Linked DNA regions of Homo sapiens: regions 2 and 3 are each linked to region 1. Evidence: fine-mapped expression QTL. A gene starts in region 1. Each other region holds a variant in brackets. All regions are shown on one strand. Distances are between the middles of the regions.

Region 1 (10,716 bases):
ACTCAAGGGCAGAGACCTGCCATTGAGACATAAGCTCTGGCTGCCCATTCCTGGAGCACTCATCTGTATTATTGCAGAACTCCCATTGCAAACGCTTTGTTGGGTACAGATTAAAATCTCTACTAAGTGCTTAGCTGGCACCCTGGAGGTGTATAATCAGAAACCATCATTCCTCTTAAAGCTTCATGTTTGCATGCAAACATTCATTTAAATAGCTCAGGCCTCAGGGTCATAATGCAATTCTAAACTCTTGTCCCAGGACCTGCCCAGTTTTGTGGATGCAAATATTGCCACTGAAAATAGTCCAAAAACAGCATCCAAGATTTTCCACAAAAGTAGGATCAGAAACCCAGGGAGAGAATTAGTCTATTTCACTTACTCTATTAGATTAGGAATAATGAAAGGGGAAAGAGCAGACGCATTTCTTGTAAATCAAGACTGAAAGCTCTACAAGTGCAAATACCATGTTTCTTTCTATTTGTCATTGTATTTGCAGTACCCAACATGATGGCCAGCAAAAAATACTTGTGTGATTGGCCTAATAGATAAATGAATGAATGAAGCAAGAAAAGTTTGAAAAGGGAAGACCAGGCCAGGCATGGTGGCTCATGTTTGTAATCCCAACACTTTGGGAAGCCAAGGTGGGTGGATCACTTGAGGTCAGGAGTTCAAGACCAGCCTGGCCAGGATGGCAAAACCCCGTCTCTACTAAAAATACAAAAATTAGCTGGGCATGGTAGCATGCACCTGTAATTCCAGCTACTTGGGAGATACAAGAATCGCTCAAACCCAGAAGGCAGAGATTGCAGTGAGCTCAGATCACACCACTACACTCCAGCCTGGGCAACAGAGTGAAGTTCCATCTCAAAAAAGAAAAAAAAGAAAAGAAAGAAAGAAAAAGAAAAGGGAAGACCAAATGATGCTCTCAGAGTCAGGTTCAAATAATACCTCTGCATCATCTATCTCTGGTTTTTGTGCAAAAGCAGATTACTTCTGAAGGGCCCTTTCCATTCCATCTTGTGGTTCTTCTTTTTTTTCTTTTTTCTTGAGATGGGGTCTTGCTATGCTGCCCAGGCTGGTCTTGAACTCCTGCGCTCATGTGTTCCTCCTGCCTCAGCCTCCTGAAGAGCTAAGATTACATGTGCCTACCACAATACACAACTCTATCTTGTGATTCATCTGCAGCCTTGACTGATATAAAGGACATTGGCCATTTCTGCCTGCCCAGTGTCCATTCCCTTTTTCTATTAAGTCCCCCATTTCCCTTTGGGAAATCATCTCTTCTCATTTAACGTACTCTTCTTAAGAGGGTGTGTCTTGGTAAGCACCTCCCATCATGAAAGGTGAAGGACACTTTTTCCTTTTGTTTGCACCTTTTAGGACCAGTGCGACGTAAACTCAAACAAGCAGATATTCTCTCCAGTATTTGACTCTTGACCAAGTGACCCAACAATGGAAGGGGTAGTTAGAAGTCATTTATTTTGGCAGGGGTGTTGCTAAGAGAAAAAATTCAAAGAAATTAAATTTAGACCGGGCACAGTGGCTCGCGCCTGTAATCCTAGCACTTTAGGAGGCCTAGGTGGGTGGATCGCCTGAAATCAGGAGTTCAAGACCAGCCTGGCCAATGTGGTGAAACCCTGTCTCTATTAAAAATACAAAAATTAGCCAGGTGTGGCGGCGGGAGCCTGTAATCCCAGCTACTTGGGAGGCTAAGGCAGAAGAATCACTTGAACCCAAGAGGCAGAGGTTGCAGTGAGCCGACATCGTGCCATTGCGCTTCAGCCTGGGCAACAGGAGCGAAACTCCATCCTAAAAAAAAAAAAAAAAGAAAAGAAAAGAAAAGAAAAGAAAAAAAGAAATAAATTAAATTTAACAGAATTTAACTGAGCAAATAATGATCCTCAAATTGGGCAGCCCCCATCCAGAATCAGAAGGTTCAGAGAGATTCCAGCACTGTCACATGGTGAGACAGGATTTATGAATAGAAAAAGGAAAGCAACATACAGAAAACAGAAGTGAGACACAGAAACAGTTGGAATGGTTATAGCTTGGCATTTGCCTTATTTGAACACTGAACAGTTGGCTGCCTGTTGAGTGGTTGAAGTATGGCTTCTGTGATTGCCTGAGGCTTGGCTACTTGTTTGGGTTTTTTGTTTGTTTGTTTTTGTTTTTGAGACGGAGTTTTGCTCTTATTGCCCAGGCTGGAGTGCAATGGCGCGATCTCGGCTCACTGCAACCTCCACCTCGCGGGTTCAAGCGATTCTCCTGCCTCAGCCTCCCGCCCGCCACCACGCTGGATAATATTTTTGTATTTTTAGTAGAGATGGGGGTTTCACCATGTTCGCCAGTCTGGTCTCGAGCTCCTGACCTCAGGTGATCCGACCCCCTCGGCCTCCCAAAGTGCTGGGATTATAGGTGTGAGCCACTGCACCCGCCAGCCTCCTTCTTTAACATCCATTCTAAGCTATTGCTATTTGTCCTTTTCACTCCCGGGTTCTATCTCCTTGTAGTGAACACTGTTAGGGTTGTTCCTCCCTTCTCTGCTATGATTCTTCCTTGTCTATAACTGATTCCTCCCCTCCAGCAGTTTGACCTTGTGCTCTGGCCATTGCGATTGGTCAGATTTACCCATCCTCACCATAAGCTAGGCCAATCAGATTTCTTTTTCCTGAGAGTGTAGAAGTTTGACCTCATGAATATGAAAGTTGTAGGTTGTTGAGAGCTAAGCACCAGAAGTGGTTTGGTTAGGAGGAAGGAAGGTCTATAATTTTCTGCTGCTGAGGTTTAGGATTTTCCTGAGTGCCAACACTTCCCTGTCTTCAGGAGAGTTCCAATAAATTTACCTTTCTTGAATAAGTTTTTTAAAATTGGCTTATGTTATCTGCAACCAAAGAACCTCAATTAACACAGTCTCCATGTGATAGAAGGTTCCTTGGAGACAAGGCCAAAATTTTTTTTTTTTTTTTTTTTTGAGACAGAGTCTCTCTCTGTCACCCAGGCTAAAGTGCAGTGGCACAATCTCGGCTCACTGTAACCTCTGCCTCCCAAGTTCAAGCAAGTCTTGTGCCTCAGCCTCCAAGTAGCTGAGATTACAGGCATGTGCCACTACGCCCGGCTAATTTTTGTATTTTCTGGAGAGACGGGGTTTCACCATGTTGGTCAGGCTGGTCTCGAACTCCTGGCCTCACGTGATCCATCTACCTCGGCCTCCCAAAGTGCTGAGATTACAAGTGTGAGCCACCATGTCCAGCCAAGGCCAAATTTTAATTCATTTATCCATTTATGCATTCATCAAACATTTATTGAGCATTTGCTATGTGACAGACACGTGGTAGGTACTGGGAACCCAAAGATAAATTAGACAATCCCCTCAACTCACCAAGCTTGTTGCCTAATTGTAAGTATAAATGTATTCAATCAATCATTCATTCACTTAATAAGTACTTCATTTATCCAATGAATAATTACCAACACTCATTTAATATTATGTAACAGGTCTTGGCACTAAATGCTTTTGTTAATTCTCCAACTCTATGAGGTATATCCCATTTTACAGAAGAAGTACCTGAGTCATAGAGAGGTTAGGCAGCTTTGCCTAAATCATAAGGATTCTAGGTGCTGAAACCGGTCTTCAATTATGGTATATCTGACTGCAGAGCTCTTGCTTCTAAGCATTGTGTAACCTCCCTCTCAAAGAATCTCAAAGCAGTGTGATACATGCTTACACAGGTGTGTATAAAGCTCACAGAGGAGAAAGCAACTAATTTTGTGGGGAGGTTGGGGTTCAAAACAGGCTTCACAGTTGAAGTGGTTTGAGCAATCTTGAAGGAAGAGAAGGGTTGTCTTCCTGGTGCCTAGCACAGAACTTTGCATATGAACACTGTAAAATGATGATTAAGCGGCTTATGTTTCTGGAAGGAGTTGTTTTCCTGTTTACATGGAGTCTGGGGTGTTTCCTACTGCCTACTGCAGCATCATTTTTGTGATTTAGCAATGGCATGTGAAGTAATCAGATCATCTGTATATCACTGATGCTCACAGAAGCCTGTAAGGTAAGTAGTACAGGTACACACTTTGTAAGATGAGTGAGGAAACCAGGGCTGAGTTTGCATTACTTGTCCAAGACTATACATAGTGAGTAAGTGGCGGAACAAGACAAGGGGCCAGCCCCCTGAGGAGGGATCGGCTAACAGGACTCCTCAAATCTAGCCAGACTCCTTTACTCCTCTTAGCCTGCAGGTGAGGCTTTGATCTTTCTAGACTCGACACCCGAGTTTCTGAAGGTTTCCTCAGAACACCCTCCCCATCCTTCTCAGTTCCAGCTCTCCAAGTCCCGCTCATCTTCCAAGATCTGTCTCATTGCACATCTTCCTCGCAAGCCTTCTCCAGAGTCATTCAGCTCACTCCCTAAGCTTCAGTTAAATCCCTTAGCCCTGCTTCCATCCAGATTCCTGCCCTGAAAACTTTCTACCTGGTTAGACTCATCACTGCCATTCAGCTTCCCTCATCAGAACTCCTGTTGCCTAATCTCTCCAGCCTTAGGTTGGTCTTTAACTATTGTTTTCTTTCTATGTGTATATCTTGTCTCTCACTGAAATGTAAGCTCCATGAAGCACAGCCACATGTTTCCTTTTTAGCCTTATACATACAGATGTATATTCACTTTGGGATCAATAGTGTTTGTCAACTCAAATAGGATGTGTGGGATGAATGATCCCACCTTCTGTTAGATTATTCAGCTCCTAAGTCATGCAAAACCAATACCTTGTGGACCTCCTTTCTAAAGCTCCTGCAGGGTGGGGAAAGAATGCACGGATTCTCATAGGTGCATTTAGCAATTACTAGTAACCAACACTTAATGAATGCTTACTAATTGCTAGGTCCTGTACAAAATACATTACATACATAAACTTATTCAATCTTCACGACAACTATTATTGTCCCCACTGAACAGATGAAGACACATAGAGGTCACTCAGCTAGTAAGTGGCGCAGCTAGGATTTAAAACCCAGACCGACTCCAGAGTCCATACTCTCAATTATGATACTAAATTCTTTATGGATAACAGAAAGTCTCTAATTGTAATGTAGATCAATTTCCTTGCTTTCTAACCCCATGGGAAGATGGAACTAAAAGGGTGAGAAAATAATATTTATTATACTCCTACTATAAGCCTAGTATTATAAGAGGTGCATAATGGGTTAATGATATAATTCTTGCTGTAAGTCTATGAAGCAGGAAGTATTAACTCCATTTTAAAGAATTTGGCTTCTAAAGTGGTTAAACACAGTGCTCAAGTTTTAGCTTCCAGTTATTGGCAGAGTTGGAATTAGACCAGGTTTTCTAACTTTGAAGGAAAGACTTAATTTAAAGGAGACTGTATAGAAAACCCTGCCAAGGGCAAATGTGAAGGGCACGTGAAAAGGCATCTGAATTATTACTTATAATAATTCAGAAATAGTGAATGTGTGGCGCATATTGAAGAATGATGAGAGATTGTCAAAAAATCTATTCTATAAACACTCACAGAGGAATCAGCTAATTAAATAAGCGAGCTGCCTGTCTTGGGCTAGGACATAAACTCCAAAACTTCCCACGAGGCAAGGGCAAAGAGGGCGCCACCTGTCCTGGAGAACCTGGGAACCCGCTCTAGAGACTTCGGCTCAGCCCCTTTTATTTCCTCACACTCTAATTGGCTACTTTTCCCTGGGCTCCGCCTCCTCCTCGGTCTGGACCATTAAACAGGCAAGCCCTACCCCGGACCTGGATGCGGCCTCCAATCAGGTGCCAGGCCCTGGAGTCCCTCTAGAGAAGCCCCCTCTCCACCGGCGAGGCGCTTTGCTCTCGTCCGTGATTGGCCAGGCAGCAGCATGGGGTCCGCCTCCTTCTCTTCCAGATTGGTCAGCGGTCCTCAGGACCACATCCCTCTCGGCAGGTCCCCGCCGCTTTTTCCCTTCGCTGCGTGGCCTTGGCCGAGACCGGTCCTCTGCGGAGAGGGCCCCGCCCTCTGTGAAGGCCCGCCCGGGAATTGGCGGCGGCGCTGCAGCCATTTCCGGTTTCGGGGAGGTGGGTGGGGTGCGGAGCGGGACTTGGAGCAGCCGCCGCCGCTGCCACCGCCTACAGAGCCTGCCTTGCGCCTGGTGCTGCCAGGAAGATGCGGCCGGAGCCCGGAGGCTGCTGCTGCCGCCGCACGGTGCGGGCGAATGGCTGCGTGGCGAACGGGGAAGTACGGAACGGGTACGTGAGGAGCAGCGCTGCAGCCGCAGCCGCAGCCGCCGCCGGCCAGGTACGAGGGGCCCGCGCGGCGGGGCCGGGGTGGCGGTGTGGACTGGCGGAGGGGCGGCCGGGCGGGGCGAGGTCTCCGGGCCATCCGCTGGGCAATCCGCGGGGCGGGCGCCGTTCGCAGGTGTGGGCGGCAGTGTCCGGCCGCTGGCCCGACCTCCACGAGCCTGGAGGCTCAAGGACGGCTCGGGGGCTCCCCACCTCTCCGCGCCTGGAGGTCTTACTCCCGGAGCTCTGGGTTCTGCTCAGAGCTCCGGGTACTTTTCTCTGCCCCATTCTGCCAGAAGTGTGTGCTGTCCCCAGGGGAAGCGATGAGGGGCCCTTCGGACTCCAGTGGGAGCCGCCCAAGGGCTCCGGAGGGTCCCTTCTCAAACCCCTGAGGTTATTGCTTCCTTTTAAAGTCCTGCAGTCGTCCAAAGAAAACCACCCATGGGGTCCTTAAGAAGCAAAGAAAATTAGGCGGTGGTGTCAGATGGAAACACACCCAGCCTCTCCCAACCACATTCTGGACTACCACGTTCAGTCCCCAACCAGGACATTGGTCCATAGATCTGGCAGGGAATCCAAGCTGGTCCCTCGAAAGCATCATTCTCTTAACTCTGCCGGTGGTGAGACTCTACCCCAGGCTCCAGGTTGGATTAGGTGGCCCCTTCGACCCTTTCCTGAACACGAGTGCTATCACACAAGGGGATTGTTTAGCCTGGTGGTGACTTGCGATGACTCTATACTAATTAACCATGCTGAATCATCAACCAAGTTCAGGCAGTTCTAAAATATTTTGAAAAGTTCTAAATTCAAGACAATGCTTATTATCAACCTTACAGTGGTCTGGACTGACAGATATTCTGTTGAAATGTGTTTTTAAAGATGAGCTGGTTAAAAAGATGCAAGATCGGTGTTCCTGGAAGAGAGTGTTGCGATAATTTTGCAGTTGACTTTAATACGTTTAAGTCTTGTACAGATATTAAGGAACGCTTAGAAAGTACTCTGTTTCCCTTTAGCGGGAGTGTGACTGTTGCAGTTTGATAGGATGGTGATCTTAATTTGGCTTTAACATAACTACTCCCCAGATGAGTAGTTATGATGGATAGGTCTGTTACTGTTTGCTGCGAAGCAGAAAATAAAGCATTTTTCCAGGTCATGTTGAGATATTGAGACTGAGTTGAGGGGAAAAATAAGTAAAGCAGACTTGACCTCCCCTGAAGTTGTAAGGTGTCAAAGCGAAGTAATACACAGATCAAAAGATTTGTTTTCACTTTTAAAGAAATAATTGTGTGAGGGAGGAAGTGATAACAGTCAGCTCATTATAAGCAGTGGAATAGTTTGTCGTTTTCCTAGCAATGTAAACGACTTATAAGACAAAATTGTTGTGGTATAGAATGTAATAGGGAAATTTAACGGGTAGGAGTTAGAAAATACATTTGCAGGTGAATTTCATTGAGGTATGATTTTTTTTTTGTTTTTGTTTTTGTTTTTTTTTTTCAGACAGTTTTGCTCTTGTCACCCAGGCTGGAGTGCAATGGCGCGATCTCGGCTCACTGCAGCCTCCACCCCCTGGGTTCAAGCGATTCTCCTGCCCCAGCCTCCCGAGTAGCTGGGATTACAGGCGCCCGTCATCACGCCCGGCTAAATTTTGTATTTTTATTAGAGATGGGGTTTCACCATGTTGGCCAGGTTGGTCTCGAACTCCTGACCTCAGGTGATTGGCCTGCCTTGGCCTCCAAAAGTGCTGGGATTACAGGCGCACCAGGCCGAGGTATGATTTTTTTTGTTTTTTTGGTTTTTTTTGAGATGGAGTCTCGCTCTGTCGCCCAGGCTGGAGTGCAGTGGCGCGATCTCGGCTCACTGCAAGCTCTACCTCCCAGGTTCACGCCATTCTCCTGCCTCAGCCTCCCAAGTAGCTGGGCCTACAGGCACCCGCCACCACGCCCGGCTAATTTTTTGTATTTTTAGTAGATACGGGGTTTCACTGTGTTAGCCAGGATGGTCTTGATTTCCTGACCTCGTGATCCGCCTGCCTCGGCCTCCCAGAGTGCTGGGATTACGGGTGTGAGCCACTGCACCTGGCCGGTATGATTTTTTAAAATGAAAAAGGAAGTCAAGAGAAAGGTGTTCACACTTCAGCGTTGCTTTGTGTTCAAATGCTTCTTTCAATCCCTATGAGTTATGTTCAGATTTAGTAGGAAATCAAGGACCTTTCTCCCATAATCTCTAACAATTTAGCATTTATAGAATGATATTTCTTCAGAGCTTGCCAACTAATAAGGTGAAGAAATATCAAGGTACTAACATGACATTTTAAAATCTGTATGAATAACATTTGGTTGACTTTTGGGGACATGTTTTGTAAAAGTTTCACTCAAGGCACATTGGTGGCATTTGGAAGAACGGTCTGTTGGAATGCTGTGAGGGCTGCAGTATCCCTTCTAGAAAACTACTTCTCACCAGTATTTTTAATACAGACTTCAGATCTGGAGCTTTCTACACTCTCAGATGGAGGAATATTGTCTGTGAATATTTTTCTTTCTTATACAAAAGAGAGATCTTGGTAACTACATGAGAGCAATACAATATCTTAACATTTTTTAAAAGTTGTTTTCATTTTTAATTAAAGCGATGTGCTTGTGCTCCAACCTCTACCTATCTTTCCCCTCTTTCTGGGGGGGAAATGTTGCCAACTGTGCCATCAAAAATACGCATACAGCTGTGTGTCATGCTTTTACTAAAATATGAATTTAGAGTATAACATTGTTGAGATGTAAATTCTTTTCCTCACATCTCCCACCATGTCTTTTAATGAACAGGAGAGAAGTCAGAAACGTCTAGGATCACTTTACACTCTCAAGAGTATGTTTCTGTGCTTGAAGAGATGAATGAATGTGTATAGTAAAAGAACAACTCTTGGATTTGGGTTTAGAATTTGATGAGCTAGATGCTGTGTTAAGGAGTTATGAAACAATCACACATTGCTGTTTAGTGATGACAGTAGACACACAGTTTTCACAATAGTAACAGTTGAACAATAGAGCAGTAATTTTTCCTCTCTGCTATTCAGATGAGTGGGAGGAGCACAAACCTTTATTTGAGGTAAGGTGTGGCAATTTGCCCGAGGGAAACTTTTACATTAGCATTGGAAAGAACCTTTGGGAGTTTATTTAATTCAGTCCTTTATCTCTTTGTAGGAGTTTATTAAAATCAGTCTTGATAGAAAATTCTGTACTGTTTTTAAAGATCTCCAGGGGATTTGCAGCAAGTTTTTCTCTATAGCAAATTGGATTATTATTCCATGATCTTAATTACCAAATTTCTTCCTGTGGATTTAACATTTGATGAAATAAATGCCATGTTTTGGTTGCACCTGAAATATAGTAGTTTGTTTGTGTGTTTGTTTTTAAAACTTCACGTTAACAGCTCTTTTTAAAAGAGCTTCCATTTCTTTATAGAAGTTTTGAGATTTAGGTTTTCCTTTTACTTTCCTGAGTTAGTTAATAAGTGTGAAAGAAAAAAAGTTATCTACCTTTGAGACAGTTTTGACCCTAACTTTTTTCCCTTTGGGTGTAGTTTTAATGAGATATTAGAAGGATGAGAGCTCTCTGGCTTACAGAATAAAAAATTCTATCTCAAGGAATTGGGGCAAAAGTTGTGTTCTTATGTTAAATAATAAGCAAAGTAGAAAGAACAAAGTGTTAGTCTTGCTTCTTAGGAGGAGGCAAATAAATAACTAATAAAGCTGGTTTACTAAATAGCTACTAGCTTTTGTTTCCACTGAGGGAGAAACAGTAACTGGGGGTTTATATGTGATAGTTAAGGAAAAGGAGACGATAGTTATGAGGCTAGAACAGTAGAAATAGTTAGAATAGTCATATATCTATTTAGATTTAGCAGATCCTGATAAGATACCTCAGATACCTGAAGGCTTTTCAGAAATAATGTAATTTACAACTTGGAGGACAAGATTTTCATTTCAGTTTTCACTCTAAGGGGAAGCATATCTTGATTCTTACATAGCTGCATCTGAAGAATTCCAGAGTTATTTGAGATACTCAGGAATTTTCTTTAACAGGAATTCTTGGGAAATGTGTAAGCAGCTATGTTCTTAAGATAGTATTTTAGAACTAGGATGTTCAGAAAAGTCAGACTTGCCCACTTTTTAGGGTTTGCCCATGTGCCATAGAAATTTGCACCGCTTTGAGCAAGACAGTTAATTGGTTGATTTAATTAGATTCAGTTTTTGGAAGAAAGAAGCAGTGTTTATTGGTAGAATAGGCAATTCAGAGGGATGGGTAGAGGCACTGTTTGCATTCTGAGTGGGTGTGCCATACTTGATTAAATAAATGGTTTGTGGACTCAAAGTCAGTTCCCTTCTGGGTAGTTTCTGAGAAGCTTCTGTAATATAATTCACAATTTGTGACCGATAAAAAAGTAAGTCCTTT
Region 2 (10,716 bases), 120 kb after region 1:
AGGCTATTTATAGTTGGGGGCGTGGCTTGGAGTCCAGTGGTGATGCTCTTCATGGAGACAGGTGCTCATGAATGAATGAACTCATTGTCTTCCAAGTCTCCTTTCATCTGGTGGAAGGTGCAGGAGTGTGGTAAAAAGACAAAATAATAGGCAGGATGTAAAAATATTTATACCAAAAAAAAAAAAAATTCCTGAAAAAGAACAAGGTGGCCTTGCCTTTAGTCTAGTAAATGCAATATGGTCTAGCAGGTGCTCATAAACAGGGTTTCTTTAGGCTAACATTTGAGTGTTTACCATGTACCAGGCACCCTATTAGGTTGCACCATATGAAATTGCCAATATTCGACCTTTTGAACAAAACATGGCAACTTCATATAGTTCATTCTAATACAAATTCTCAACATGGAAACCTGGCTTCTCATTTACTCACATTTACTTCTCATTTACTCACATTTACTTCACATTTACTTCTCATTTACTCACACTTCTCACACTTGGTGCCCAGGTGAGAGGGGTAACCTCTCCTGCTCCCGGGCCCCCACACTTTTACAGATGACAAGAGCACGAAGACGTCAAATAATTTGTCCAATAATATCACCTACTTGGTAAATGGTGAAAGATTCCAGTCCCCATGGCCGAATCCAGACCCAGGTTGTCATCCCTGTGATGCACCATTCAAAACCCTGCAGCTGTGCCCCTGGGAATAGGAGTAGTTCCAGAAAAGCACACAGTCCCCCCACAGTCTTACTCTAACTTGACCCAGACCCAGCAGTTTACACCAGTAGCTGGGCTTGCTCTTCATCCTCTCTACCACCCCTGGGGATCCACCAACCCTGCCCTGAAACTTGAGTCATCCTTTGTGCGCCCTGCTATGACCCCTGGGTGGGCATGTCCCCAGTGCCTTGTGACTGCTCCTCACCGACCTGTCCCAACCCCTCCCCCTACCTGGTGTCACTGCGTTCACATTCCCAAGCTGCCCCATCCAGATTGGCACTGCCTCTCAAGAGTTCCTGATCTTTGCCACAAGCTAAGGTTTTGTGTCGGTTGCTCAGAGGCAGGCCATCTTGGTGACCCTCGTGGCCTACGTGAGGATCCCTGCACCAAGGGTCCCACTGGATGAAGTGGGCAGTTTCACTGTTTCACCCAGGATACAACTAGGCGACGACCAGACTCCCGGCTGTCCTTCTGGGACTTTATCCTCACATCTGAGTCTCAACTTTCTCCTGTTTTGTTTTCTGAGACAGGGTCGCACTCTGTCGCCTAGGTTGGAGTGCAATAGTGCAATCTCGGCTCACTGCAGCCTCTGCCTCCCAGGTGCAAGCGATTCTCCCACCTGTGTGTGGGCCAGGTGCGCCGGACCTCGGGGCTCCCACCCGCTGGGACTACGGGTGCGCGCTGCCACGCCCGGCTAATTTTTGTATTTTTAGTAGAGACGGGGTTTCACCTTGTTGGCCAGGCTGGTCTCAACTCCTGACCTCAAGTGATCTTCCTGCCTCGGCCTCCCAAACTGCTGGGATTACAGGCGTGAGCCACCGGCCGACTCTCCGGTTTTTAAAAGTGCTCTGAGAACATTCCGAGGACACTGGGTGCAGAATGGCAGGTGCTGGCTTGTGCCTCTGCTCTGGTCTCCACCTCCGGCAGTAGACTGGGAAGAGCCCTGGGGGAGTTACTTCTAGGCTTCCTCCCCAGCAAACCTTCCTCGAGGCATAACCAAACATCTGCCCGGCATCCGAAGACTCGCGCCACTCTCCCGTCGGGCTGCGCCTCCCTCGCCCGCGCGGCACCGCCGGTCCAGGTCGCAGTTGGAGCGCGGTCGGGGAGGGCAGAGGTGGCGTCGGACCCTCAGGGCCCCGCAGGAGTCGCAGCGCAGGGCCGGAGCGCGCCGGGCCGCAGCTTCCCGCGAACAGGAATTCGCTGGGGGCTGCGACGGCGACAGCGGCGGGGACTGAGGGCGGGGAGGCGGCCAGATCAAAGAGAGCCGCCCACAGGGTCAAGACGGGTCGGGGAGCGCCGAGGGGCCCCTCGGAGGAGGGTGGGGGACGTCCAGGTGCGCGGACCCTAGAGCTGTGCGGGCGCCCACGCGAGGAGCCGGGGCCAGAGAGGCTGTGCGAGCTGCGCGCCCCCGCCCCGCGCGGCCCCGTGCCCCGCGCGCCCCTCAGGATCGCCGGGTCCCGCCCCCGGAGGAGGCGAGGCGGGGCGCGACTGGGTTCGCGGCCGCGTGCAGAGGTGCAGGCAGAGCAGCCTCGGAACCGAGACGATGCGTGCGCTCCGCGACCGAGCCGGGCTCCTCCTCTGCGTGCTGCTGCTGGCGGCGCTGCTGGAGGCGGCGCTAGGGCTCCCCGTGAAGAAGCCGCGGCTCCGCGGACCACGGCCTGGGAGCCTCACGAGGCTCGCAGAGGTGAGTGGCGGCGGCACCGGGCTGCGGAGCGCGCTGTCGGTCCCACCTCCCCAGCCCGCCGGCTCCAGCCGTGCGGGGAGCGGGACCGGGACACACACAGGCAGCGACCCCCCGATGGAGAGAGGGGCCGGGGCCGGCCGGAAGCTCCCGGACACCGGGCGTTGCCCAGGTGCGCCGGACTTCGGGGCTTCCACTCCTCGCGCGTGACCGCGAGCCGGGCTGCCGCGGACCAGCCGGGTGACAAGTTTGACTTCTGTGCGGAGTGAGGTGGCCGACACTCCACGGTGGCCGGGCTTCCTCGCCCTGAGCGGACCTCGCCTGCAGCCCCCTTTCCAGGTGCGCGCTAGCTCGGAGAGGAGTCCCGCCGGTGCGAGGAATCTGGCGCTTTGCGGAGTGGCGGGCCAGGGCCGCTGAGGTTCAAACGGTCAGGTGAGCCCCTTCCATGAGACAAGCGGAGGCACAGTGGGGCTCTCCAGCCGCCGGCAGGGGTGGCCAGCCTGAGACTGGCTCTGTCCTCGTGGCCTGTGGGTGGGCATTGGGGTATAAAACAGGAATGAGATGGAAGAGTGGTGTTGGCCATGGAGAGAAGCCATGGTCTGTCAAACCCTGTGTCTTCCAGTCACTGAGGGGTCTACAGTCCAGCTTATTGCCCCCTGGAATGCAGCGGACGTTCATTCCCATGGGGACAAAGACAGCCAGACTTGTATTAGGGTATGCAGGAGCAGTCCTATGTGGCAGGTGGTCTTAGGTCTTGGGTCCTGGGTCCTTCCATGTACTAAGCTGTAGGAGGCCCGAATAGCTCTTCCCATCTTGCCGTTTTTCCTTCCTTCCTTCCTTCCTTCCTTCCTTCCTTCCTTCCTTCCTTCCTTCCTTCCTTCCTTCCCTCCCTCCCTCCCTCCCTCCCTCCCTCCCTCCTTCCTTCCTACTTTTTCTTTCTCCCTCTCTTTTATTTTATTTTTGGGACAGGATCTCTCTCTGTCACCCAGGCTGGAGTGCGGTGGTGTGATGATAGCTCACTGTAGCCTCAACCTCCCGGACTCAATCGATCCTCCAGCCTCAGCCTCCTGGGTACCTGGGAGCGCAGGCATGCACCACCACACCTGGCTAATTTTTTTTATTTTTTATTTTGTAGAGATGGGGGGGTCTCACTGTGTGTCCCAGGCTGGTCTTGAACTTCTGACCTCAAGCAATCCTCCTGCCTCAGCCTCCCATAGTGCCAGTATTACAGGCATGAGCCATGGTGCCCAGCCATTCTTCTTCTTCCTTTTTTTTTTTTTTTTTTTTTGAGACAGAGCCTCATTGTGTTGCCCAGGCTGGAGTGCAGTGGCACGATCTTGGCTCACTGCAACTTCTGCCACCCGAGTTCAAGCTATTCTCCTGCCTCAGCCTCCCAAGTAGCTGGGATAACAGGCGCCTGCCACCGCGCCTGGCTAATTTTTGTATTTTTAGTAGAGACAGGGTTTCACCATCTTGGCCAGGCCGGTCTTGAGCTCCTGACCTCATGATCCACCTGCCTCGGCCTCCCAAAGTGCTGGGATTACAGGTGTGAGCCACTGCACCCAGCCATTCTTCCCATTTTTGAGATGACGACACTGAGGGTCCATATAGGCATGCAGGGTGTGGGAGATTGTGAGTGAGTGAGTGAGAGAGTGAGAGCCAGAACTTGTCCAGACTGCTGAAACCCTCCAAAGGCCGTGGGAAGGAATGGGGAGACTGGCTGCACTTGAGGATGTGTCTGTAGACCAGTTTTGCTACCTTTTTTTCTGCCCCCTTAAGGAGTCTTTTAGGTTTTTTTCCTGTCCCCACTCCCCATGAATTTTTTTTTTTTTTTTTTTTTTTTTTTTTTTTTTTTTCCTGAGATGGAGTCTCACTCTGTCACCCAGGCTGGAATGCGGTGGCACAATCTTGGCTCACTGCAACCTCCGCCTCTCGGGTTCAAGCAATTCTCCTGCCTTAGCCTCCCCAGTAGCTGGGATCACAGGCTCACGCCACCACGCCCGGCTAATTTTTGTATTTTTAGTCAAGACAGGGTTTCACCATGTTGGCCAGGCTGGTCTCGAACTGGCTGGTCTCGAACTCCTGACCTTATGATCCACCTGCCTAGGCCTCCCTAAGTGCTGGGATTACAGGTGTGAGCCGCCACGCCCGGCTATTTTTTTTCCCGGAGACGGAGTTTTGCTCTTGTTGCC[C/G]AGACTGGAGTGCAATGGCGTGATCTTGGCTCACCACAACCTCCGCCTCCTGGGTTCAAGCGATTCTCCTGCCTCTGCCTCCCGAGTAGCTAGGATTACAGGCATGCGCCACCACACCCAGCTAATTTTGTATTTTTAGTAGAGATGGGGTTTCTGCATGTTGGTCAGGCTGGTCTTGAACTCCCGACCTCAGGTGACCTGCCCACCTCAGCCTCCCAAAGTGCTGGGATTACAGGCGTGAGCCACCATGCCCGGCTGAATTTTTTTTTTTTTTTTTGGCATGGAGTCTTGCTCAATCTCGGCTCACTGCATCCTCCACCTTCCAAGTTCAAGCGATTCTCCTGCCTCAGCCTCAAGAGTAGCTGGGATTACAGATGCCTGCCACCACGCCCAGCTAATTTTTGTATTTTTTTAGTAGAGATGGGGTTTCGTCATGTTGACCAGGCTGGTCTCAAACTCCTGACCTCAAGTGATCCATCTGCCTTGGCCTCCCAAAGTACTGGGCTTACAGGTGTCAGCCACCACGCCCGACCTCCCCATGACATTTTAATACCATAGATACACTGTCTATGTATTATAGCCCTTTGGAATGTCACAAACCATTGTAATATCTTAAGACTTTTTGGTCCCTCACAAGATCTAGTTATTGCCCCTATTGAGAATGCATCCTTTAGACTGGCTCTTCTCAGCCTCGGCACCCTCGTCATTTTGGGGCATATAATTCTTTGTGGTAGGGGCTGTTGTCTTATGCTTCATAGAACGTTTAGCAGCATTCCTGGCCTCTACCCACTAGGCGCCTGTAGCACTTGCCGCCTCACGAGGCCCAGACACTCCACATGCTTCCTGTGGGACACCCTATCCCCACTGCCCGTAGTGGAGAATGACTGTTGTAGACAGATGAGGCCTCTCGCCAGTCCCTCCTCCTACATGGAGATGACAGTGATAATAAAATTAACTAAATTGGCATTGTTTCTGCTCACTTGGCATGAATACTTTCTATTTTAGTACTTACTGCTTTGTATTGTAATTATTTTTAGCATGTTTGCCAAATCTTCCCCTAACAAGAACACCCTAGAGGATGAGTTATTTCAGAGCCAAAATCATATCCTCAGCTCCCGTACAAAGCCTGGCAGAGTCATCAAAAACATGTGAAAACAAATTAGTGCCACAATGAAAAAGCAGAGCTTAGAGTCTAGGCCTTGGAGTTCTGGTCCCAGTGGGTCATTAATGCATGTGTGACTCACCTCGGATGATTTCCTCACATTTAAAAAGAGGGGCCTGCGTGGTGGCTCACACCTGTAATCCCAGCACTTTGGGAGGCCAAGGTGGGAGAATTGCTTGAGCCCAGGAGTTCAAGACCAGCCTGAGCAACATGGCGAAAACCCATCTCTACCCCCCAAAAAATACAAAAATTAGCTGAGCGTGATGGTGCGCCCCCCGTAGTCTCAGCTACTCTGGAGGCTGAGGTGGGAGGATCTCCTGAGCCCAGGAGGCAAGAGTTGCAGTGAGCTGAGATCGCGCCACTGCACTCCAACCTGGGTGACAAAGCGAGACCCTGTCTCAAAAATAAATAAATAAAATGAAAAAAGAGAGCTGAGAGAGCCTAAGTCATCTTTATGGTTCTGTCCAGCTCTGACATCGTTCCATGAGTCTTCATGATTTGTGTTAAAGCTGTCTATGGCAAAGGTGTTAGTTTAAGGAGTCATGTTGAGAGAATGCAGATTGCTATTCTAGGGACTTGGGTGGCGTGTCACAAATAACTGACCAGGCTGGGTGCAGTGGCTCACACCTGTAATCTCAGCACTTTGGGAGGCTGAGGAGGGTGGATCACTTGAGGTCAGGAGTTCAAGACCAGCCTGGCCAACCTGGTGAAACCCCATCTCTACTAAAAATACAAAAATTAGCCGGGCATGGTTGTGGGCACCTGTGGTCCCAGCTTATTGGGAGGCTGAGGCAGAAGAATTGCTTGAACCTAGGAGGCAGAGGTCATAGTGAGCCGAGATTGTGCCACTGCACTCCAGCCTGGGAGACAGAGTGAGTCTCCATCTCAAAAATTAAAAAAAATTGAAAAATAAAAAAGAAATAACTGACCAGCCCAAAGACCTTAATGAAGAAGCTAAAGAACATCAAACCCCTGAATCTAAAAGTAAAGGTTGCTGAAAGGGAAGTGAGCATTTTCTGGGCCTTACAGAGTCCATATGAATTACTTAACATGAGAATATTTCATTGTTACACCACTTTGACATGGGCATGATCTCCATTTTCCAGATGAAAAATGGAGGCACAGAAAAGTTAAGCCTAGCCAGGAGCCAGGTCTGGGACCTTATGGTACATCTTTGCATGTCATGTTCTAGTCTGCTCATCTGAAGTCTTGAAAAGAATCACAGGGCCGGGAACGGTGGCTCACGCCTGTAATCCCAGCACTTTGGGAGGCCGAGGCGGGCGGATCACAAGATCAGGAGATCAAGACCATCCTGGCTAACACGGTGAAACCCCATCTCTACTAAAAATACAAAAAAAAAAAATTAGCTGGGCATGGTAGCAAGCACCTGTACTCCCAGCTACTCGGGAGGCTGAGGCAGGAGAACGGCGTGAACCCGGGAGACCGAGCTTGCAGTGAGCCAAGATCGCGCCACTGCATTCCAGCCTGAGCGACAGAGCGAGACTCCATCTCAGAAAAAAAGAAAAGAAAAGAATCATTCGGCTGGCCGCAGTGGCTCACGCCTATAATCCCGGCACTTTGGGAGGCCGAGGCAGGTGGATCACTTGAGGTCAGGAGTTTGAGACCAGCCTGGCCAACATGGAGACACCCCATCTCCACTAAAAATACAAAAATTAGCCAGGCGTGGTGGTGGGCGCCTATAATCCCAGCTACTTGGGAGGCTGAGGCAGGAGAATTGCTTGAACTAAGGAGGCAGAGGTTGCAGTGTGCTGAGATCGTGCCACTGCACTCCAGCCTGGGTGACAGAGCAAGACTCCCTCTCAAAAAAAATAATAATAAATAATTAGCCTTGTGAACAAAATATGGCCCCTGCTTCTCTGGGCAGGCCTGTTGCTGAGCCTCAGTTTACTCCCACAGTAAAATAAGAACCCATTCTGTCAGATGCAGTGCTGGGTGAAAAAGCACCAGACACATGGATGGTGACATCGTCATAAAAACAGGTTGTGGGCCAGGCATGGTGGCTCATACCTGTAATCCCAGCACTTTGGGAAGCCAAGGCAGGTGGATCACTTGAGCTCAGGAGTTCAAGATCAGCCTGGGCAACATGGAGAAACCCTGTCTCTACTAAAAATACAAAAATTAGCCAAGCTTGATGGCATGCACCTGTAATCCCAGCTACTGGGGGCTGAAGTGGGAGAATTGCTTAAGCCTAGGAGTTTGAGGCTACAGTGAGCTGTGATTGATTGCACCACTGCACTCCAGCCTGGGTGACAGAATGAGACCCTGTCTTTTTTTTTTCTTTTTTTGAGATGAAGTTTCGCTCTTGTTGCCCAGGCTGGAGAGCAATGGCACAATCTTGGCTCACTGCAACCTCTGCCTCCCAGGCTCAAGCGATTCTCCTGCCTCAGCCTTCCTGAGTAGCTGGGACTACAGGCATGTTCCACCATGCCCGGCTAATTTTGTATTTTTAGTAGCTATGTTGGTCAGGCTGGTCTCGAACTCCCGACCTCAGAAGATCTGTCTGCTTCAGCCTCCCAAAGTTCTGGGATTACAGGCGCGAGCCACCATGTCTGGCCGATCCTGTCTTCAAATAAATAAATTAATTAAATAAAAGAGGCTGGGCCAAGCCAGGCATGGGTAGTGCATGCCTATAGTGCTAGCTACTTGGAGGGTGGGTGGGAGGATCACGAGGAGTTCGAGGCTGCTCTGAGCTGTGAACACACTACTGTACTCCATCCTGGGCAACAGAGCAAGACCCTGTCTTGAAAAAAAAAAAAAAAAAAAAGGCTGGGGCCAGTTTGTTGAGTGCTGGACAGGCAAAGAGTGACCCAGCTCTGTCTTGGGTATTTTCTGTTCTAGTTAGGATGAGAACACCACTCAAACAGCCGCCATGTGTGTTCCTTGTCTTATTATCATTTTAGGGATGAGAAAACTGACAGCGGGCCCAGTAACTAACCCAAGGTTAGTATGTGGTGAGCCAGGATCCCCACTCAGTTTTGCTTAATTCCAGAGCCCCTGGGCACCTAAACCTGGCACCCACCACCTCCCTGGCAGGCAAGGGAAGACCTTGGCATGGGAGAAAGAAGAGCTGGGGACTTGGTGCCACAAAGGGGTTGAGGGGGTTAGAATTAGGCAAGAGAGGCTGGGTGTGGTGGCTCATGCCTGTAATTCCAGCACTTTGGAAGGCCAAGGTGGGAGGATTGAGGCCAGGAGTTCACAGCTCCTGTGAGCTGTGATTGCACCAGTGCACTCCAGCCTGGACTACAGAGTGAGACTCTGTCTTTATTTAAAAAAAAAAAAAGGTGGGGGGCTGGGCGGTGGCTCACGCCTGTAATCCTAGCACTTTGGGAGGCTGAGGCAGGCGGATCCCCTGAGGTCAGGAGTTCAAGACCAGCCTGGCCAACATGGTGAAACCCCGTCTCTACTAAAAATACAAAAATTAGCAGGGCTTAGTGGCAGGGGCCTGTAATCCCAGCTACTCGGGAGGCTGAGGCATGAGAATCGCTTGAACCCAGGAGGTGAGGTTGCAGTGAGCCGAGATTGTGCCTCTGCACCCCAGCCTGGGTGACAGAGTGAGATTCCATCTCAAAAAAAAAAAAAAAAAAAAAAAGACCAGACGCGGTGGCCCATGCCTGTAATTCCAGCACTTTGGGAAGCCAGGGCGGGTGGATCACCTGAGGTTAGGAGTTGGAGACCAGTCTAGCCAACATGGTGAAACCCTGTCTCTACTAAAAATACCAAAAAAATTAGCCGGGCATGGTGGCAGCCACCTGTAATCCCAGCTACTTGGGAGGCTAAGGCAGGAGAATCACTTGAGCCCGGGAGGCAGAGGTTGCGGTGAGCCGAGGTCATGCCACTGCACTCCAGCCTAAGCTGCAGAGTGAGACCCTATCTCTATTTAAAAATAAATAAATAAACAGAGGAGACCTGAGAGAGGACTGTTCTTCCAGTCTGCAAAGACTGTCCCACCTGGAGCGGGATGGGGGTGGTTTGTGCTGCCGCAGCAGGGGTTAAATGGCCATGAAAGAAGCGCTTGTTGAGGGTATAGGCTGAGACAGAACAAAGGGCAGAGGAAGGAGCCTGGGGTCCCTGAGAAACCTGAGGCAGTGTCATGAACATGGTGGGGGTGCCCCCCCAGCACTTCAGTCCCGGTCCATTGTCCAGCCAGTTGCCTGGAAGCAGGGGCTGGATTGCCGGAGATTTGCAAGGTCTCACCTGCCAGGTGGGTGGCAATGAGAAGGATGTATTTCCTAAAGGCTGATTTTATCTGGTTGTGGGGTCTTTCTAGCCCAATCAGTGAGTGAGTGCCAGGGGAGAACTAGAACCTAGGTCTGTGTGGTGCCAAGCCTGTGGCCTCACCTGCTAGCCTTCTCCTGCAGCTGGCCACCTTCCTGGACCTCAGCTATGGCCTTCCTTATCCCTCCAGACCATTCAGTCTCTAAAGGGTTGGAAAAGCCCCCAGGGAGGGAGAGAGAGAAGGACAGGAATGAGGCCTGGAAGCTTGGCTGCCCAGAGGCCTCAGGCAAGTCTCCAGCCTCTCCGATCTCAGTCTCAGGTTGTTACGAGGATCAAAGGGAAGGATGGACGTGGAGAGTTGAACATCCTGTATAGTGTTTTGTTCATCCAGCACATTCAGCACCGCAGAGCAGCAGGCGGCAAACCAGAAGGTGCAGCCACTGCCTGGAGTTAGCAAAGCACAAGGCTTAAGAGCACAAACTCCAGCCATACCACTGACATCAAATCCCACTCTGCCAGCCCCTAGCTGTGTGACTCCAGGCAAGTTACGTTACCTCTCTGATCCTTGGCTGCATTGTCTATGAAGTGAAGATGATGCTCACACCTACCTAAAGTGTTGTTGTGAGAATCCAGTGAGTCTGTACATATAGGGTGATCGGCAAGACTGGCTCCGTTCTTTTTCTTTCTTTTTTTATTGCCTTTACCTGGGAAAGCCAACTGGCCACATTTTT
Region 3 (8,000 bases), 350 kb after region 1:
GTCTGTCTGTTGGCCTGTATCTGTTGTAGCCCAGGCTCCCCAAGCTTCCCTGCATCTTGGTCCTTGTCCCCTTGGCCACACTGGAGAGGTGATGGGGCAGGGCTGGGTCTCAGTATCCTAGAGTCCAGCTGCAGAAGGAGTGGCTTTTCCTCCAGGAAGGGGCTTCTGGGTGTCCCCTCATCCCCAGTAGCCTCTTTCTTGCGTTTCTTTTTACCTTTTTTGGCACTCCCTCTGACCCCGCGATGAGTGTTTTGGTGGCAGAGGTGGGATGAGCTGGAAAGGTATGGAGGTGGGAGAGGATGGGGCTCTTCTGTCTGTCCTGCTTCTTCAGGTGAGTGCAGGCCAAGGCGGGGGTGAGATGGCTGAGCTTCCAGCGCCTTCTGTCCTGCCTGCCCAGTCCCTTCACTGCTTTCCTGCCCCAAGATGGCTTGCTTTTCACAAATAAAGAGAAAGAGCAGCTTTAGCCTTCTTGGTGGAATCCCAGGCAGTGGGAGCAGAATCAGAACTGCCAGGGAAGGGAAGGGGGACCTGGGTCTCAATGGGTCTCATTTGAGTCTCGCGGGCTGTGCAGATGCCCTGACAGAGTCGGTTTCCTTTGGCGGCATTCCCTTTCCCTCATTCAGCACTTCTGCTGGGAACTCCCTGACTATTCCGCTGCTGCAGGAACCCAGCTAGCTGGCCAGGTGGGGAGGGGCTGGGGACCGGCCAGGAAGGAGGGGTGACTTCATCCCAGAGAGACCCGAGTTCCCCCAGCCCTTCATCACCAACCCGCTCCTGCAGGAGTGAGTCTTACCTCCCCTGGCCCTCCTTTCTGGCTCAGCCTGCAGCGACTGTGAGGCCACAGCTCCTCAGATTCACTGCCCGCTGTGTGCCAGTACTCAGGCAGCTGGAGAGAAGAGAAGGCAGCAGCAGAGGCCCCCGCCCTCACCCCAGCCATCTGCACTTGTACCATTTGCTCTGTGCTGACTGTGGTCCTATAAATTCATGAGAAATAAACTGGTTCTGTGTGCCTCTCTGACCCTCGGGCCTGATCTTTTCTTGGGTCTTGGCCTGTGCCAGATGAAGCTGCAGGGCAGTGGATCTCAGGACAGGATGGGAGGATGGAGTCAGGGAGGCCAAGGCTGGAGTGGGTGGAACAGGAGGGAGGGGCCTGGGAGGAAGCTCTGGGAAGCCAGTGGCAGACATCTGTGGGGTCTGTGGCCCAAACTGGCTGGCAGACCACAAACCAGCTCTTCTTCCTCCTGGGCACACAGCTGGATGTCATGCAGCCACCCTTGCAATTAGGTGGGGCATGTGACTGGGCTCTGGCCGCTGGACCGTGCAGATGTGTGTGCCACTCCGAGGCCTGGTCCCCCAAAACTCCTGCATGCTCCTCCATGCTCTGTCATCCTTCTGCTGGTGTGATACAGACCTCACAGAGACCATGAGGGCCACGTGTTGAACATGGCAGAGCCACAGGTGAAAGGAGTCCTGACCCTGAATCGCTGCTTGGAGGAAGGTGCCTATTAATCAGAATCACCCATTTTGAATTTTATATGAAAGAGACAAACTTCTCTTGTGTTTATGCCATTACACATTTTGGGGTTAGTTAAACCCATACCCGCACTGATCCATGGTCTGAAGCAGGTCATTGGTCGGGGGCTTGGGACCCCACAGGCTGTGGGCTAGAAAGCCAGCCAGGGACGTGGGGAAGAGAAGCTGTGTTGAGTAGGCATGATTGGAGCAGGTTTGGGGTTACCTCCATGTGTTCCAGCCTCGGCGGCGGGCCCGAAGCCCACGCATGGCTGCAAGGCCTGTGCCTGGGCTGGCTGTCCTCGCCCTGGGCTTCCAGTTTCTCAGCCAAGACTGAATGTAGCAGATGCCCACGGGGCCTTGCCAGCTCCCAGATGGGGCCTCATTTTCTTTAAGCTCAGATGCCAGGCCTGCCAGGCTATGTGACTGCAGGCACTGGGTCTGCAGCATGTTAGGAACGCCTTGGCCGCTGTGGTGCCCAGAGCATTTTCTGGAGCCCTACAGGCTGCAGTGAGTGAGGGCCTCATCTGCTGTGTGACCTATTAATGGGTCAGGCTCAGGTGTCCATGTCTGGCCCACAGCTCTCTAGGTGGCCTGGCTTTGGAAAGGTCTAATGCCCTCCTCTGACCTGTGTCTGAGTCATCCTAAGCATGGATGCTTTCACCTTTTTTGAAAGCCACTCTTCTACTTAGGTGTGAGTGCGTGTGTGCATGGGCATGCACTGGTGTGTGTGCACGCGTGTGTATGCATGTGTGTGTGCACGTGTGCGTGTATGCACGCACGTCTGTATCAGGGGAGAGTATCCCTTACCTCCTCCTCTGCTCAAGGGCTCAGCCCTCTCTCCTGCATCCCTCCTCTATCAGCCCACATCTCCCCTCCTATACAAAGAACAACCCCTCACTTCCTTTCCTCTCCAGCTACCCCTTTGGTTCTTTTCTTCCTTTGATAGCAAAACCCTTCGAAAGAGCAGTCTTTCCTTGCTGTTTTCATCTCCTCACTTCTTATGGGAGGATGGGAACCTGCTTCAACCAGGCTTTGCCCCCACTTTCAATCTACTACAGTCAAGGTCACCAACCACCCTCATCTTGCCAGATGTAGAGTCACATCTTAGTCCTTATCTTCCTCTCCTGCTCAGCAGCACTCGAAAAAGTTGGTCATGCCTTTATTTTTACACTTTTTATTATGGAAAAATGTTAACATACACAAGAATCAAGAGATGAGGGAATCTCCATGCACCTCTTCCCCCAACCACACCCCCCTCCCATTTTTGTTTTTGTTTCTTTGTTTTTGCTGGAGAGTTTTAAAGCAAATCCAAGACTTCATGTTCTTTTACCTGTAAATTCTTCCATATGAATTTCTAGCTGGCACTTTATTTCACATATGAAGCCACGCCATCAATACATCTAACAAGATGAACGGTATCTTCTCATCATCACCTAATTCAAATTCCCTGATGGCCCACATTCATCCACGTGTAGATTTCCCAGACGTCTCTCTGCAGTTGGTTTGTTCAACTCAGGATGCACACTTCGCATTTGATTGTGTCTCTTCACTCTTTCACTTTGGCCTGGCCCCTCTTGCCATTTCCCCTCACCATTGCTGTGTGGGAGAAGTGGGTCATTTGTCTAATGGCCTGTTCAGCATTCTCCACTTGGCTGAAGCTGCTTCGTGGCATCTTTTGACTTATTCCTCTATGCACCGCATTTACTGCCAAGCGTGGTTAGAGCTGGGGACACCCTCCTTCCTTTTTGAGTCCCTCCTGGTTTTCCTTGCCGGTTCTCCTCCCATCTCTTTGTGCTGGCTCAGCCCTCAGACCTCCTCACCTGCACCTGCTCCCATCAAAGTCTCAGCCAGTCCCATGCTTTAATCACCACCCAGGTGCTGATGACATCTCCAGCCCGACTCCTGTATCTAGCCACCTTCTTGACATCCCCACATAGCATCTTAACCAGAACACACTCAAGATGGAACTCTTGGGGTTTCCCTTGGCCTTTTTCTTCCCAGCTTTCTCCACCTCAAACCAGAGTGTGCTGAGTTGTTCATGC[T/C]GAAGATCTGGGAGTCATCCTTGCGTTCCTGCTTTCCCTCAGACCCCACATCTAATCATCCATGAATCCTCAACCTCTGTTCCAAGTTTAACTGCTTCTTTATTCACTCCCTATCCTGGTGCAAGCTACCATATTCTCTCTCCTGAATGCCTCTGACACAGTCCCAACTGGGCTTTTTTTTTTTTTTTTTTTAGACAGGATCTCACTCTGTTGCCCAGGCTGAAGTGTGGTGGCATGATCATTGCTCACTGCAGCCTTGAAATCCTGGGTTCAAGGAATCCTCCTGCCTCAGTCTCCCGAGTAGTTGGGACTCCAGGTGCATGCCACCATGCCCAGCTAATTTTTAAAATTTTTGTGGAGATAGGGTCTTGCTTTGTTGCCCAGGCTGGTCTCAAGCCCCTGGCCCCAAGTAATCCTCTCACCTCAGCCTCCCAAAATGCTGGGATTACAGGTGTGCACCACCACACCTGGCCCCAGCTGGGCTTTCTGCTTCTACTTGTCCTACCCTGGTGACAGTGACCATTTCAGCACATAAGAGTTACATGGGTGGTGGCCAGGGGCTAAGGGGAGGAGGGAATGAGGAATTATTGATTATGGGTATACAGTCTCAGTTTTGCAAGATAAAGAGTTGTGGAGGATGGCTGGTGGTAATGGTTGCACATTACGAATGTATTTCATGCCACTGAACAGGACAGTTACAAATGGTTAAGATGGTGGCCGGGCGCGGTGGCTCACGCCTATAATCCTAGCACTTTGGGAGGCCAAGGTGGGCGGATTGCTTGAGGTCAGGAGTTCGAGACCAGCCTGGCCAATATGGTGAAACCCCATCTCTACTAAAAAATACAAAAATGATGATGGCATATGCCTGTAATCCCAGCTACTTGGGAGGCTGAAGAAGGAGAATTGCTTGAACCTGGGAGGCGGAGGTTGCACTGCACCCAGATCACGCCATTGCACTCCAGCCTGGGTGACAGAGCAAGACTCTGTCTCAACAACAACAACAAAACAAACAAACAAAAAACCCATAAATGGTTAAGATGGTGAATATGATTATGTGTACTTTACCACCACCACCACAACAAAAAAACCTGGAAAACAAACACATAAGGGGATCATACTCCTACCCAGAATCCTCCCATAGTTTCTCAGATGATGAGTGAAACTTGGAGTCCCAGCGTGGCCTGCACAGCCTGTTGCCCACTCAGACCTCGCCCCACCCTCTCCTCCCCTCGCTCACTCTGCCTGGTTCTTTGGGCTCCGCATGTGTGCCCACAGACCCTTTGCTGGCTCTCATGTCTCACCTCCACAGAGCTTGTGCTGGCCTCTCTAGTGCAAAGCATCCTCTCCCCACCTACAGGCACCCCTTGCCCCTATCCGGCTTTGTCTCTCCCTGACACCCCATTATGTAGGCCTATTTGTTTACTGCACTTGTCACGTTCTGTTGCACGGAAATGGGCAGGCGGTCATGGAAGCCACTGGGCTCTGTGTTTGGAGGGGAGGGAAGAGGGACAGTCTTTGAACCCTTGCTGAAGATGACAAGGTAGCCAGAAGTGCCCCTGACACCTGGTGTGTGGCCCTCGGGCCCACATGGTACTCATACTTATTGCAAAAGAAGATAAAGATGGCAGAAGCGTGCCTGAGCTAGGGAGTTGTCATTTCTAAGCTGGCGATGGTGAGATGCTGAGGCCACCCAGGGCATGCAGTGCCTGAGGTTGGGACTGTTTTCCTTATCCACTCACCCCTCCCTGCACACTGGAATCACCTGGGGGACTTTTGTAAAATACAGGGTACTGGGCCCCACCTGAGAAATTTTGGTTTTTCAGGGATGGGGCCTGGACATTGAGAGTGACTCTCCTTTGCAGCTGGGCTGGAGAACCTTGGGAATTGAGGCTGAGAGCTGCCGGGCTGCCACTTGTCCAGGCCGAGGGACTGTCAGATGTTCTGAAAGCAGCCTCTGTTCAGAAAGCCTGGGAACCTGTCTCCCCATAGACCAGGCTCTCCTCGCCTCTGCAAGGCCTTCCACAGAGCAGACCTAGAAACCTGGAATCTGGCCAGCAAGGAGGTTCCTCAGGACAGAAGTGAGCTGCCTCAGGCTTCCCTGGCGGGGCCCCGTGCAGCCCCAGGCTTGGTTTCTGGGCAGAGGCATGGGGCACTCTCAGGCCCCGCTGCTTCCTCCCTGCGCAGCACTCGGTCACGTGCTCCAATCCTTTCTTGGGCACAGCCCAGTGGAGCCAGCCTCCTGGGGCTCCCTCTTGCCCTGCCCCAGTCCCGTCCCCAGCCCAGGTAAATCCACCTTCAGGCCTCCGGTCCATCCTGGCCTGCTGAGTGGAGAGAGGATTGACCAACACTAACCTCCCTGGAGGACATTCCATCCTTGGGGAGACCGCCCTCCCTCTTCGGCTTGTTTTTCTGTCTCTTTCTCAGTCTCTGCCTGATAAAAGGCCCTCGAAAGGTCTGCTGAACCACAGAGTGTCCCAGGCCTGCCATCTGGGGACCCTGGAGCTGCCGGCCCCTGGGAGGGGACCATGAGAGGCAGCAGCAGGGCGCAGCCCCGTCCCGTCCAGTCAGGGAGTCTTCATGGCTTCTCTCCTGCGAAGCAGCCCTTGTGGATTTTAAGGGCTGACTTGACTTGGAAAATAATTGTTTTGAGGGGGAGAGGGGACAAGTGGACGGGTCTTGATCCCACGCCCAGGCCCACACCTTGGTAGACTTTGAGTCAGTGGCCACTGATGGACCGTAGAAGTTTGCGGAGAGGACCCAGCGAGGATGATGCAGGAAAGAGTCCTTAGGCAGCCACCCTGAGACTGTCATCCTCTGTCCCCATAGGGAGCACTGCGGGAGGAAGTCTCCCCCTACTCAACACACCCACAAGATTCCCATCTTCTGCCCTCAAATCTGCTCTGCTCAGTCACGAAGCAGAACAGTCCGCTTCATGTCCTCCCAGCCCTACTGTCTGGATGAGGTGACCAGCCTGGGTCATGCAGCTGCTGGAGGAAGGGACAGAACCAGTCTCCTGACCCTGAGATGTGTCCGCCAGGGCAGGGAACTGTTGTCTCCTTGCCACAGTTATAACAGCCTTTGCTAACGGGTGTTTCTTATCCCACCTGGCTGCCCCACACACTTCCCTCGTGCCAACCTCTCCTCCACCCAACCTCTCCTCCACCTCCCCCATCCCCCAAGTCCCCCACCCTCATCCTCTTGCAGACCTGAGCCCTGTCTGCCGCTCTTCCTGGGGCCTCACCTGAAATCTGTGTGTTTTGAAGTCTGGCCACTAGCCTAGCCCAGTGGCCTGCTCATGGGGCTCAGCACTCACCAGAGACTTCTGCTGCTCCTCGGGGCTGCCCTGCTGGCTTCCTGGGTAGCTCAAGGACCAGAAAGTTCTCTCCACTGCACAGCGGAGCAAGGCCAGGCTGGCCCAGATGCACAGGCAGAGAGGCAGGGGCCAGGAGAGGTTGGGAGGACTTGTTTATTCAAGGCACGGTCATAGCATTAACAAGAAGGTTCAGCATTCTGGCACATTCCTTTTGTGGTGGTGGCCAAGGTTAGCCCACACCCCCTCCCCCCCGACCGGGGGCCCCAGAGGACGCAACGCTGCTGATAGGCACTTTGCTTCCAGGGGCAGTGGAGGGTCAGGCAGGTGGGCATGGGGCCACTGGAGGCCTGAGGAGGGCCCCTCCTGGAGGCTCTAGGCAATACCGGTTCCTGGGCGGCAGCTCCTTCCAGAAAGGATTAAGTCAGGAGGTGATTTGGTGGATGGAGTGGGGTGGGGCGGCTGGGAAGTGGCTGGCAGAGGAGTGGGATGGCAGTAGGTGGGGGGAGGGGGGCAATGGGTGAGGCAGGTGTGGGCTGAGGCAGGAGGTGCCTGAGAGGGCCTGGATGTGGTGGCGGGGGGAGGCTAAAAGATGCCCCCTGCTCCACCATCCTGTAGTGACCATGGGAGGTCCAGATGGAGCCAACTGCCATGAGGCTTTGCTGGTTCCCCTAAGAGTGGACTATGGAACCTTCTCCACATGCTCACCACCTTCTCTCAGAGCCAGGCTACACTGGACCCAGGTTCAGAGGGAGAAGCCCCCAGTCATCCCGCCACATTGTCTGCCAGGACTTTTCCCATATGTGGCTTCCACAGTCCGGCAGGGGCTGCAGGGGCTGGGGGCAGGGGCCAGGGAGCTGTGTCCAGCAAAGAAGAGACCCCAGGCCAGCTTCTGGTGTGACCCCCCACACCCCATACACCAAATACACATGATGGGGTCGGGCAGGGCCTGGAGCTGGCCACCTCCCCATCATGTGCCAAGCTCCTGCTGGGCCTGACCGCTATGCTGTAACAGCGTACTTTCCCCTTGTTGGTTGGTGAAATTCCAGTGGGGAGGGGGCCTGTGGGACCTGGGTGTGTAGGGGCCAGGCTAGGACCATTTCCCCTTTATTCCTAGCTGGACAAGGAATGGG

The links. PIP is the estimated chance that this variant, and not a neighbour inherited with it, causes the effect.
Region 2: its variant is fine-mapped to the expression of SPTLC2 in whole blood (TOPMed, PIP 0.98).
Region 3: its variant is fine-mapped to the expression of SPTLC2 in whole blood (INTERVAL, PIP above 0.99).

The regions. Positions count from the first base shown.
Region 1 is chr14:77,612,019-77,622,734 of GRCh38, reverse strand. It overlaps SPTLC2 (serine palmitoyltransferase long chain base subunit 2), which reads left to right and starts at 6,098. Exons shown (of 12, transcript NM_004863.4): 1 at 6,098-6,287. The coding sequence starts at 6,156. RefSeq lists silencers at 5,672-5,731, 6,062-6,111, 6,252-6,451 and enhancers at 5,771-6,303, 6,632-6,841.
Region 2 is chr14:77,490,335-77,501,050 of GRCh38, reverse strand. It overlaps ISM2 (isthmin 2), which reads left to right and starts at 2,235. Exons shown (of 7, transcript NM_199296.3): 1 at 2,235-2,398. The coding sequence starts at 2,258. RefSeq lists enhancers at 1,552-1,611, 9,392-9,891, 9,892-10,393 and silencers at 1,982-2,171, 2,442-2,651, 2,692-2,751. The variant C/G (reference allele first, on the strand shown) is at 4,588.
Region 3 is chr14:77,258,501-77,266,500 of GRCh38, reverse strand. TMEM63C (transmembrane protein 63C) reads right to left here. Exons shown (of 24, transcript NM_020431.4): 24 at 7,006-8,000. NGB (neuroglobin) reads left to right here. Exons shown (of 4, transcript NM_021257.4): 4 at 1-1,018. It overlaps MIR1260A (microRNA 1260a), which reads right to left and starts at 283; the gene lies at 211-283. LOC124903351 (a long non-coding RNA gene) reads right to left here and starts at 6,682. Exons shown (of 2, transcript XR_007064276.1): 1 at 5,359-6,682; 2 at 2,674-3,111. The variant T/C (reference allele first, on the strand shown) is at 3,558.